Linked DNA regions of Homo sapiens: region 2 is linked to region 1. The links come from fine-mapping of genetic effects on gene expression. Tissue or cell type: thyroid. Region 1 holds a variant in brackets; the other region holds the start of a gene. All regions are shown on one strand. Distances are between the middles of the regions.

Region 1 (5,387 bases):
ATGCCATTCTACTTTCATTAAAATTCTTCTTCATGATCCTGGGTTAATGGTCATGGTTTTGCCTTTCAGCTCTAGAGCAAGGTTTTTTTCTTGTAAGTAAGCAGTTGGTTACTGGAAACAGACCTGTGGTCCACCTGGAAGTGAACCAAAATATGGATGAGCAGAAAGCGCTTTCCCGCTTGGCAAAGGCTCATGGGCCTGGCTCCATAGGGTGGTGCCAGCTCCTGCCCTGTTCTTTTGTGCTGTGAAGACACAGGTGCCCCCTATGTTCAGTGACTTGACACTTAAATGGCAGTATGGTCTTTGGTAATAATAATGAAAACTAACAGCTATGCTTTTCACTGACAAAGGTAGGATATTGCAGGAAGCTTGATGTTGAATACTTTGGGGTTTTACTTTGAGAACTCCTAGTCCTGTATTGGACCTTGTTGGAAAGTTCCCTGAGCCTATGAGTGAGAAGGGGACAACTTGGGAGTCCCACGGTGAGCGGAAATGAGACCCGCTGGCTTGATAGTAACTAACTGCCATACGTTGAGCAGGACTCTGTGCCAGGCTTTGTGCCAGCTACTTTCCATGACTCATTTAATCCTCTCAACAACCTTTTGAGTCAGATTCTCTCAGTTTTTCCAAGGAGGAAATCAAGATTCTGGCCGTCTTAAGAGTGCTCCAAAGCCACACAGCTAGGGCGCTCCAGAGAGCTAATACCACATGGCCACACAGTGGCTCCACATGGCTTTTTAAAGAAGTTCCATGTCAGCATGGACATGACACAAGTGCAGGTGTGAAATATGGGAGCTGTAGCTTCTTTCCCAAAATCAATCAAGATGTCCTGTGGAAAGAAAGAGATATAGCCCTCGTTTACAGAATTTTTTTTTTCAATTGTCTTTTTCTTGATTAGGAAAAGTCTCCATGTTTCTGCTCAGAAGCTCACCTGTTTCTAATAAGAGAACCTTTCCATCAAATTAGGAGCCTGGTCTCAGTTTTACAGGAGGAATAGAAAATCTACCACTTGCCATCTGGAAGATCAAAGTATTTCCAAATAGAATTTAAGTCAATACCACACAAATTCTAATTCCCTAGAAGCAGCAGTTTTAATTTTGATAGTCTCTAAAAGCAATAACATTTGGTAGTTTCTGAGTAAATTTTAGACTCTCAAGGGTTTAGTTTTAGCAGTTTAATAAAATGTGAATTTTGTCTGCTGAGAAGTGAACTTTGTGGTAAGACTTGGCGAGTCTGAGGTCTGTGGTACTCCCCCTTTGGCCTTCAGTGGGCCATGCTCATTCCCTTCTTTCTTCTTTCTGGGCATATTTGCTGCCCAGATTCTGCAGTAAGGAGAGAGTGGCTGCCTTGGGGTGATTATTAGGTGAATACTCAGGTCTGGGGTTGGGAGGGACCTCGTAGGAACCACCAAAATCGAGCCTTTAAGGAACTGCCGCCTTGTAGTTGCTTAACTGTACAGGATTTCCCCCGCAACGGTCCCCTTCCTAACAGGCTGCTCTACAAAGCCAGGCTTGGACTCATAAGAACTCAGAGGTGGACCGTTGGAGGCCCTGCATGCCTTCCTCTGTCACGTGCTGCCCCTGGCAGCTCGGTGCTTCTTGCCATGGGCCTACCTGGATCCGCCACTCAGCAGTGAACAGCCGAGGAAGGTAGTGGACGTCGAACCTGGCCCGTGGGCTCTACCATGGCATGGTGATGAAGGCATGAACTTTGGCCCACTTGGCCTGTCCTGGCACCAGCCACCCCCTACTCACAAGTTATTTCCTCTGAGAAGCCACCTGAAGAGATTCAGAGGCCAGATGGAGAGACCTCAGAGGCTGCCACAGCCGCTTCCTGTCCCTTGGTAGGCAGAGAGGCCTGTGAAGGATCAAACTGGTGACACCCCTGGCCTTCATCAGGCTCTCCTCATAGCACATCACCCCAGAGCCCCTTCCCCACTGTGGAGTGAATCAGGATGGGGCTCAGGAGTCAATGAGTGCTTACCAAGCCAAGTCCCTTCAAAAACTCCAGACTCAACCCGTAAGAGTGTTTTCAGTATTTTATTAACAAATGAGCTGGCAAGAGGACAAGTGATCTAGTAGTATCACCCCCACCCTCATGGAGCAGCCACCACAAGCCCACCATGGTGGGGGGTGTCCAACATGCTCTGCTGGCCCAGTTCCCAGCCGATCCCCTGAGTCTTGGCGCCCGTTTAGTCACCCTTCAGCTGCTTGGGAGGCAGGAAGAGACTTCCCCTCTTCACGAGGTAAGGGAGACAAAAGCAGCCATTTGGATGCCAGGGCCACAGGGGCAAGCCATGCCCTATTTCTTTGGAGGGACAGAATCACTTCTTCCCAAGGCCAGACACTGTAGCCCATGGTACTCAGCCTTCTAGAGGAGGGTAGCCTAGCAGAGGAGAAGCCCTGAGTGGAAGCAGCATTTTGAAGGCATCGTCATTCTTAGACCAGCTAAGAGCTGAGGGCATTCTCTATCTTTGCCAGCAGACAGTGAGACTCCAGGATTAAAATTAAAAGCCCGTGGTGCATCCTTTCCTTGACATTAACTTTCCACAAAACCTTGGAGGAGTCAAATCCCACACTGCACATACTCCGGTGTCTCCAGCTGTGAAGTGGGACCAGTATCAATACATGGGAAAGTGCTGAGAAGGAAGAAAATATTTCAGGTATAATACTAATCCATCAAACACGTTTTATTCAAGAAGCTTGGCACCAACTTTGTGCCACATCCTCAACTCTTCAATGAAAAGAGCGGTGACCAACTCGCTCCCGTTGGTCCCTATGGCAGGTGTTGGAATGAGGTGAGGCTGGCCTCCTCTGTTTGCTCACAGCTTTATTCCTCTAGCTTCAGATAAAAATAATTATAATAGGCAATAAAGTCTCTTCACAGTGTATTTACTGTAACTACAACAGCTCGCAAGACACATTCTTTTTCTGCAGAATTGTAGCGGGTACTTAGGGAGTTTGCCGACCAGACCTTCTGCACAGGAAGCTGGCTTGCATCATGGAGGCAGTGGACTCCTGATAGTCCCGCCTGCGCAGGCCCCTTTAAGACACTGACACAAAAGACTGCCCAGAGTGGCATTTGCTGCTGAGGCTCCAGGGCAAAAACCCCATGAACAGGAAAGCATCCTCTCAGAAACAGATAATCCGCTTCTCATCTTCATAGACTTTGGCCTCCTCTGGTTTTATCAGGTTTCCATTTAGGCTGTTGAAAAGGAGGAAGACAAAAGTACACAGGTAAAATGTTAAGGATCCTCGCACACTCCTTCCCAAGGTGTGTTCATAGCACACACTCGTGTATCACACAATACACATGTATCCCTGAAATTAAGGAACATACCCTTTGCAGATAGTTCCTTCATATTAGCATGGAT[C/T]CTCTCCAGCTGCCATCCCTCTGTTCACTGGGTCTCACTAAGGTCACCTGTAGCCTCCATAAGCCTGAATTTAATGACATTTTCCAGGTCTTGTCTTTCTTGGCCCTCAGGATTTTGGCTGTCCTGACCTCTCCTCTCCCTCCTTCTTGAGGCACTCCCTCCCCTTGGCTTGGTTATATGCGCTGATTTTTCTCCTGCATCTGAGCACTCTACTTCAATTTCCTTTCCTATATTCTCCTCCATGTGACCTCTACATCTGAGATTTCCTCCAGGTTTGGGGCTAAGCCCTTTTCCCCACCCGATCTCATCAATGCCACGGCCTTGTTTGTATGTCCGTGGAGGCAGTTACCTGCTTGGCATCCTCACTTGGACCTCTCCCCCACACCTCAAAGTAGCCACACCTCCTAGGGTCCCCTGGCTTAGTGAATGGACCACTCTCATCCTGCTGAGCAGGTTAGTAACCTGGGGGTCAACCTGGACACCTTCCTTCTCATCCCCATGTTCCTTGTATCACAAAGTTCTCCCCTAATTCCTAAGAATCTAGAATGCCTCCCTGGAACCTCTATGTCTTTGGCCGGCCATCTTGGTCTGAGCACCCATCATCTCTTCCCTGCATCAGTACAATGTCCTACTGACAGGTCATTTCCACGTACTCTGGCCTTCTCCAATTCAGTTTCCTAGAAGAGCCAAGAATTGGTCTTTTTGCATTGCAGATCTGATCACATGCCTCTCCTGCTTCAAACTGTTCACTGACTTTCCATCACTTTTAGGATAAAGACCAAAATGCACATCATGACCCACAGATCTTTTATGGTCCAGTCCCTGCCTATCTCCTCAGCCTCCTGTAGTCCCCTCTTCCACACTGTCTGAACCCTGGGGCACAGCAGCTTCTGGCAGTTCTTCCAGGACACCACACTCCCTCCTGCCCCAGACCCTTTGCACATGCTGTTCCCTACGCAGAATACTCACCTCAGCTGACTAGCTCCTATTCATCCTTCATGGCTTAGTGTAAGTGCTGCTTCCTCAGAGAGGCCTTCCCTGCAACCTCATCTAAATCAGGTTCCCTCTTGGCCTTCCCCTTTGTGATAGTACCCATCACAGTTGTAATTAAATAATTACGCAAATGATTTTTTCTTTAATGTGCTTCTCCCTTTCTAGACAGTGAACCCATGAAGCCATGTTGTTCACCACTGGATTTTTGGTGCTAGCACAGTCCCTGATGCTCAAGCGTTTCGTTATTCAAGGAATAAATGAAGACACAGCACTAGTCCCTAGGACCTTGACTCAGGCCCCACCCTCCCAGAGCCACAGTCTGGAGGAGATAGCCTCACAGAAAGCTGTTATACTGGAGTGGGATACATTTCTGTAATTTACAGTGTTCATTGTTCACCTCTAATTTCTGTTCTTAAAGACAGAACTCATCAAGGGACTTCAGACTTCCAAGTTATTTTCAGAAAGGAATGAGGTAGAAATAAGTGTCAGTACAGTTAACAAGTCCAAGGAGAAGGCTTACTCTGTAAGTGTTGGCTCCAAGCAGAGCTGCTCCCTGAACGTGGCTCCCCGGCCAGCTCAACCACAACCCTGTGGCCTGGTGTGGCAGTCCCTGGCAGGGCCAACAAAGCCACAGCCTTCTCAGAGCCCAGTCCCATGAAGTCACACACAGAGGAGCATGCTCTGGAGGCTCCCAGAACAAGCCAGGGACCTAAGTGAAGACACTCCCAAGACCAGCACCCATGCCGCCTGTCCTGCCCTCTCTGAATTGGTGGCCAGTTCCCCTCTCCACCCTGACACAAGTGCAGGCCTTGAAGCTGAAGTCTCCTGGCCCTACTAAAATGGTTCCTTGTGTAGGAATGGTGACCCTCAAGAGGGAAGCAATGCAGATTTTGAAACTTGACAGAATTAAAGCAACTGTAGGTCTTTACTACCCGCCTGACCAGCTACAGAGAAAAGTGGAAGCCAACTGTGCTCTGCAAACTGTTCTGTAGTCTGGCAGTCTCCTTCCTCTCCCCCTCTG
Region 2 (5,387 bases), 34 kb before region 1:
ATCTGAATTTCACTCATCTTGAGTATGAACTGGCCCTAGTAACTTGTTTCTAACTAACAGAATGCAACAGAAGTGATGCTGTATGACTTCCAGGGCTTAGTTAGAATAGGTAATACAGCTTCTAACTGGCTTTCTCTCAGGAAGGTTCTCCGTGGAACCAAGGTTCTATGCTGTGTGAGAAAGCCCTGGCCACGTCAACCACCAAACATGTGAGTGAGGAAGCCTTCTAGATGATTCCACCCTAACCACCATCTGGCTAGAGCTGGATGAGAGACCTGAGGGAGAGCTGCCTAGCTGAGTCCAGTCAATCCCCAGAATTGTGAGAGAAGATGATATATGATTGTTGTTTCATCTCACTAAGTTTGGGATGGTTTGTTACACAGCGGTTGATAACTAGACCAGAGACCTTTCCTAGAAACGCTGGAGAACACGTGCCAGGATGGTCCTGGACATCTCCATTGTTTGCTGCTTGCTTCTCTACTGTGCCCATTGCCTGTGCTTTCACCAAACCCCCTATTAACCAGACATTGTCAGCTACCAGAAGTTTCCTGTCTTAGGATCTTGACACTTTTGAGACTCTTTGAAGTTACGAGACATGATGGACTTACTATCAAAAACTTGGCAAGCACAGTTACATCAGCAAGTGTTACTTTGTTCAAGTAAGAGGGGAAATAGTGCAGCATGGCAGTTAACCCTGTGCTCTCTAAGCTTTTACTGAATTTCAGTGGGTCATTCTAGAGACTTGGTAGCCACATGCGTGTCAGTTTGTTGATATTCAGTATTGATTATTCTCATAGGAGCTGTATATAATTGTTTTGAGCTTAAAACAAAGAAAATGATTAGTTTATGGTTCTAATCTTTTGGATTTTTTTTTTTTTTTTTAGACGGTGTTTCACTTTTGTCGCCCAGGCTGGAATGCAGTGGCGCGATCTCGGCTTACTGCAACCTCCACCTCCCGGGTTCAAGCGATTCTCCATCCTCAGCCTCCTGAGTAGCTGGGATTACAGGCGCCCGCCACCACACCAGGCTAATTTTTGTATTTTTAGAAGAGACAGGGTTTCACCACATTGGCCAGGCTGGTTTTGAACTCCTGACCTCAGGTGATCCACCCCCCTCGGCCTCCCAAAGTGCTGGGATTACAGGCGTGAGCCACCACGCCTGGCCTTGGATGTTTTAAAGTAAAATTTTCCCCACTGCAAAATAATAGATATGTGTTGTAGGAACTTTTGGAAACACAAGGCACAAAGGAAAAAATACCTTCATATTTCTCCTTTTCCCATCTCCCCAGAGACTTTTTTCTCCTTATTTGTTGGCATATGTCTTTCCATACTCTTCAATGCATATATATTCACAGGATAACATTATATGTGGTATTTTAGAACCACATTTCTAACATTCCATTTATCATGTTTTGTATTTGCATAGTATTCCATTTCGTAGTTGTACCATAATATCTTTAGACAATGCTTGTGGTCAAATAATTTCCCCCAATATTTTACTGTTACAAAAAATGTTTCGATGAACATTTTGGTCTAAAGTTGATGGATCAAGGAATATAGGGGTCATTATAAGTTAACAAATACAGCGTCAGATCATGGTACTACTCTGCTGAAAATCCCCCTTGGCTCCCATCTTACTCAGAGCCAAAGCTAAGGTCTTTACCATGACCTAAAATACCCTCAGCCATCCGGAGTGTGCATGTATGCATACACACAGACATGTACATGCCACTCACTCCTGCCTCTCTAGCTCATCTTCTCCTGCTCACCCCTGACTTGTTCCCCTGAAGCTATTCCTGGAATACACCAGGCAAGCAAGCCCCTGTGTCAGGGCCTTGGCACTTCTTCCTTCTGCCTATAACAATTCCTCCAAGTATCCACAGGCTTCCTCTTTCACTTCCTTTGTTGCGTTGGCTCAGATATCGCCTTATCTGAGTGCCCTTCCTTAACTATACAATACAAAATAAGTTCATGAATCTGCCCTCACCCCTACATTCCCTGTTTCCTTTACCTTGTTCTATTTTTCTATAACATTTACCTGACAAATCTTATGTTTGTTTATTGTCACTCTTCTTCCAGAATGTAAGCACTGTGAAGTCAAGGACTTTGTTAGTTTTGATCACTATTGTATCCATGGGTTCTAAAGCACTGCCTGGCACATAGTTGGCACTCAGTAAGCTAAGAAATAATAAGACTAACATATTGGGATTGTGGCAAGGAGGTAAGTATACTCCACTTTTTCAAGGGGATTATAAAGGGCATCATTTTTAGGTGGGAGATATTGGACATAGGAGTTTGTGAACCAAGAGACAGAGAAAGATGTTACTTGGAGATATGGAGGTTATAAGTATCAGAAGATTAGAAGTTCCGGGGATGTTTTAAAGTAAAATTTTTCCCATTGCAAAATAATAGATATCTGTTGTAGGAACGTTTAGAAATACAACTAAAGCACTTTTTGCTTTACTTGGAGTGGGTGGGACTGGAATTGGGAGGAGGGGCCATGGAGAGGCTGCTTTTTTTCATTGTGCATCTTTCTGTAAGACGTGAATTTATACCATGTACACCAATTACTTAAATAATAAGAGCATGTTTGGACTTCCAGTTTCTGGTGATGGCTGGTTATGAAAACTTGAAGAAACAAAATAATGGCTTTTTTTAAGTGAAGAACTAAAAAAACATTGAACTTCCAGGCCAGTTTTTGGATAAAAGTCTATAACCAGGGAGGGAAATGGAATACTGGAACAAAAAGCTGCCTGTGCTGAGACAGCAGTTGCTGATACCACAAACACTTGTCTGCTGTTTCTGTGGCCTGGCTGAGCCAAGAAAACATGTTAAAGCACAGAGCCCACGCAAGACAGTGTGCTTGCAGGAGACCCTACCAACAGGAATCGGATAACAAGGAGCTAAAGGTAAGGAGGAGTCAGAGCTGAACCCAGTGCCCTCTTCCCAGCAGTTGTAATGAACTGTGGCTACCTTGGTGCTCTTGGAGCAGGGAGGAAAAGAAATAGAAAATACAATTTCCCTGGAAGGCCTGTGCATATCTGCTTCCCTGAAGATTAGCTTCTCAAATATACATAGCTGGTTGGGCCAAGGATTCTCAAAATCTGAATTCGGCAGAAGCACAGCAAGATCTCTCTGGAAGAGGGCTCATCTCAAGCGTCAGGAGACTCCCGTTAAATACTTATTCAAGAATAATGTGTGGCAAGCGATAAAGATTACAAGTTACCCAAGCAACTTGAATATGAATGAGAATAGAAAATCACAGAAGCCCAGCTTCTTCCACTTAGCATAATCATTTGAGTCATCCATGTTGTCATGTGTATTCAGCAGCTTGGTCCTTTTAATTGCTGAGTGGCAATCCATAGTTTACTCATCCATTTACTAGTGGAAGATTTGTGTTGGTTCCAGTTTTTAGTGACAGTGGTTAAGCTGCTGTTAACATTCACCTAGAAGTTTTTTTGTTTTGTTTTGTTTTGTTTTTGAGACAGAGTCTCGCTCTGTCGCCAGGCTGGAGTGCAGTGGTCCGATCTTGGCTCACTGCAACCTCCGCCTCCCAGGTTCAAGTGATTCTCCTGCCTCAGCCTCCCTAGTAGCTGGGATTACAGGCACATGCCACCACGCCCAGCTAATTTTTGCATTTTTAGTAGAGACTGGGTTTCACCATGTTGGCCAGGATGGTCTTGATCTCTTGACCTCATGATCCGCCTGCCTCTGTCCCGCAAAGTGCTGGGATTACAGGCGTCAGCCACTGCGCCCGGCCTCACCTAGAAGTTTTTATGTGAATCAAAGATTTTGTTTCTCTTGAGTACATTCCTAGGAGTGGGATAGCTAGTTATATGATAAATATGTATATATACTTAGTAGGAAATTGCCAAACAGGTTTGCAAACTGGTGGTGCCACTTTGCATTCCCACCAAAAATGTATGAAAATTCCAGGTGATTGGCATCCTCACCAGAATTTGATATTGTCTGCAGTTTTGATGTTTTTGCTATTTTTTTGTTTTGACTTGGGTATACGGTGCATTTCATTGTGTTTTTCATTTTCATTCTCCCAATGCAAATGATGTTGTGTATTTTTTCATATTCTTCTTTGCTACAGGTATATTTTCTTTAGTGAAGTGTCTATTCAACCCTTTGGCACATTTTTGAAAAACTGGATTGTATGTTTTCTTACTGAATCTTGAGAATTCTTTGTATATTCTTGATACAAATCCTTTATCAAAAATATGGTTTTGGCCAGGTGTGGTGGCTCACGCTTGTAATCCCAGCACTTTGGGAGGCCAAGGTGGGCAAATTGCTTGAGCCCAGGAGTTCGAGACAAGCCTGGGCAGCATGGTGAAACCCCATCTCTACAAAAAAAAAAAAAAGTACAAAAAATACAAAAAATTAGCCAGGCATGGTGGTGGCACACGCCTTTTGTCCCAGCTACCTGGGCGGTTGTGGCTGTAGTGAGCCATGATTGTGCTGCTGCACTTCAGCCTGGGAGACAGAGTGACACCCTGTCTTTAAAAAAAAAAAAATTATATATATATATATATATATGTCAAATATATATATATATATGTCAAATATATATATATGTCAAATATATATATGTCAAATATATATGTCAAATATATACATATATATGTCATATATACATATATATGTATATATATACATATATATGTCATATATATAACATATATATGTCATATATATACATATATATGTCATATATATATACATATATATGTCATATACACATATATATGTCATATATATACATATATATGTCACATATATATACATATATATGACATATATACATATATGGCATATATACATATATATGGCATATATATACATATATATGGCATATATATACATATATGTCATATATACATATATATGTCATATATATACACATATATGTCATATATATACATATATATGTCATATATATACATATATATGTCATATATACATATATATGTCATATATACATATATATGTCATATATATACACATATATATATGTCATATATATATACGACATATATATATGTCATATATATATACATATATATATATGTCATATATATATACATATATATATGACTTGCAAGTATTTTCTATTTTCTCCCAGTCTGGCTTGTTCTTTTGTTTTCTTAGCAATGTCTTTTGAAGAGCAGACATTTAAAATTTTGATGGAAGTTCAATTTATTGGGTCTTTTTCTTTTTTGAATTGTGCTTTTGGTGTCAAATCTAAGAAATGTTTGGTAAACCCAAAGTTACAAAGATCTGTCTTCTAGAAAAGAGGTGAGCAAACTTTTTCTGTAAAGGGCCAAATAGAAAATATTTTAGGCTTTACAGGTCATAGTCACTGTTGTAGCATGTAAGCAGCCA

What was found. PIP is the estimated chance that this variant, and not a neighbour inherited with it, causes the effect.
Region 2: it holds the start of LINC01176, and the variant in region 1 is fine-mapped to the expression of LINC01176 in thyroid (GTEx, PIP 0.97).

The regions. Positions count from the first base shown.
Region 1 is chr7:30,422,507-30,427,893 of GRCh38, forward strand. NOD1 (nucleotide binding oligomerization domain containing 1) reads right to left here. Exons shown (of 14, transcript NM_006092.4): 14 at 2,021-3,204. The coding sequence ends at 3,132. Among named protein-coding and RNA genes, the nearest start is that of LINC01176, 34 kb to the left of the region's middle. The variant C/T (reference allele first, on the strand shown) is at 3,374.
Region 2 is chr7:30,388,128-30,393,514 of GRCh38, forward strand. It overlaps LINC01176 (long intergenic non-protein coding RNA 1176), which reads left to right and starts at 2,758. Exons shown (of 3, transcript NR_108081.1): 1 at 2,758-2,908. RefSeq lists an enhancer at 2,940-3,558.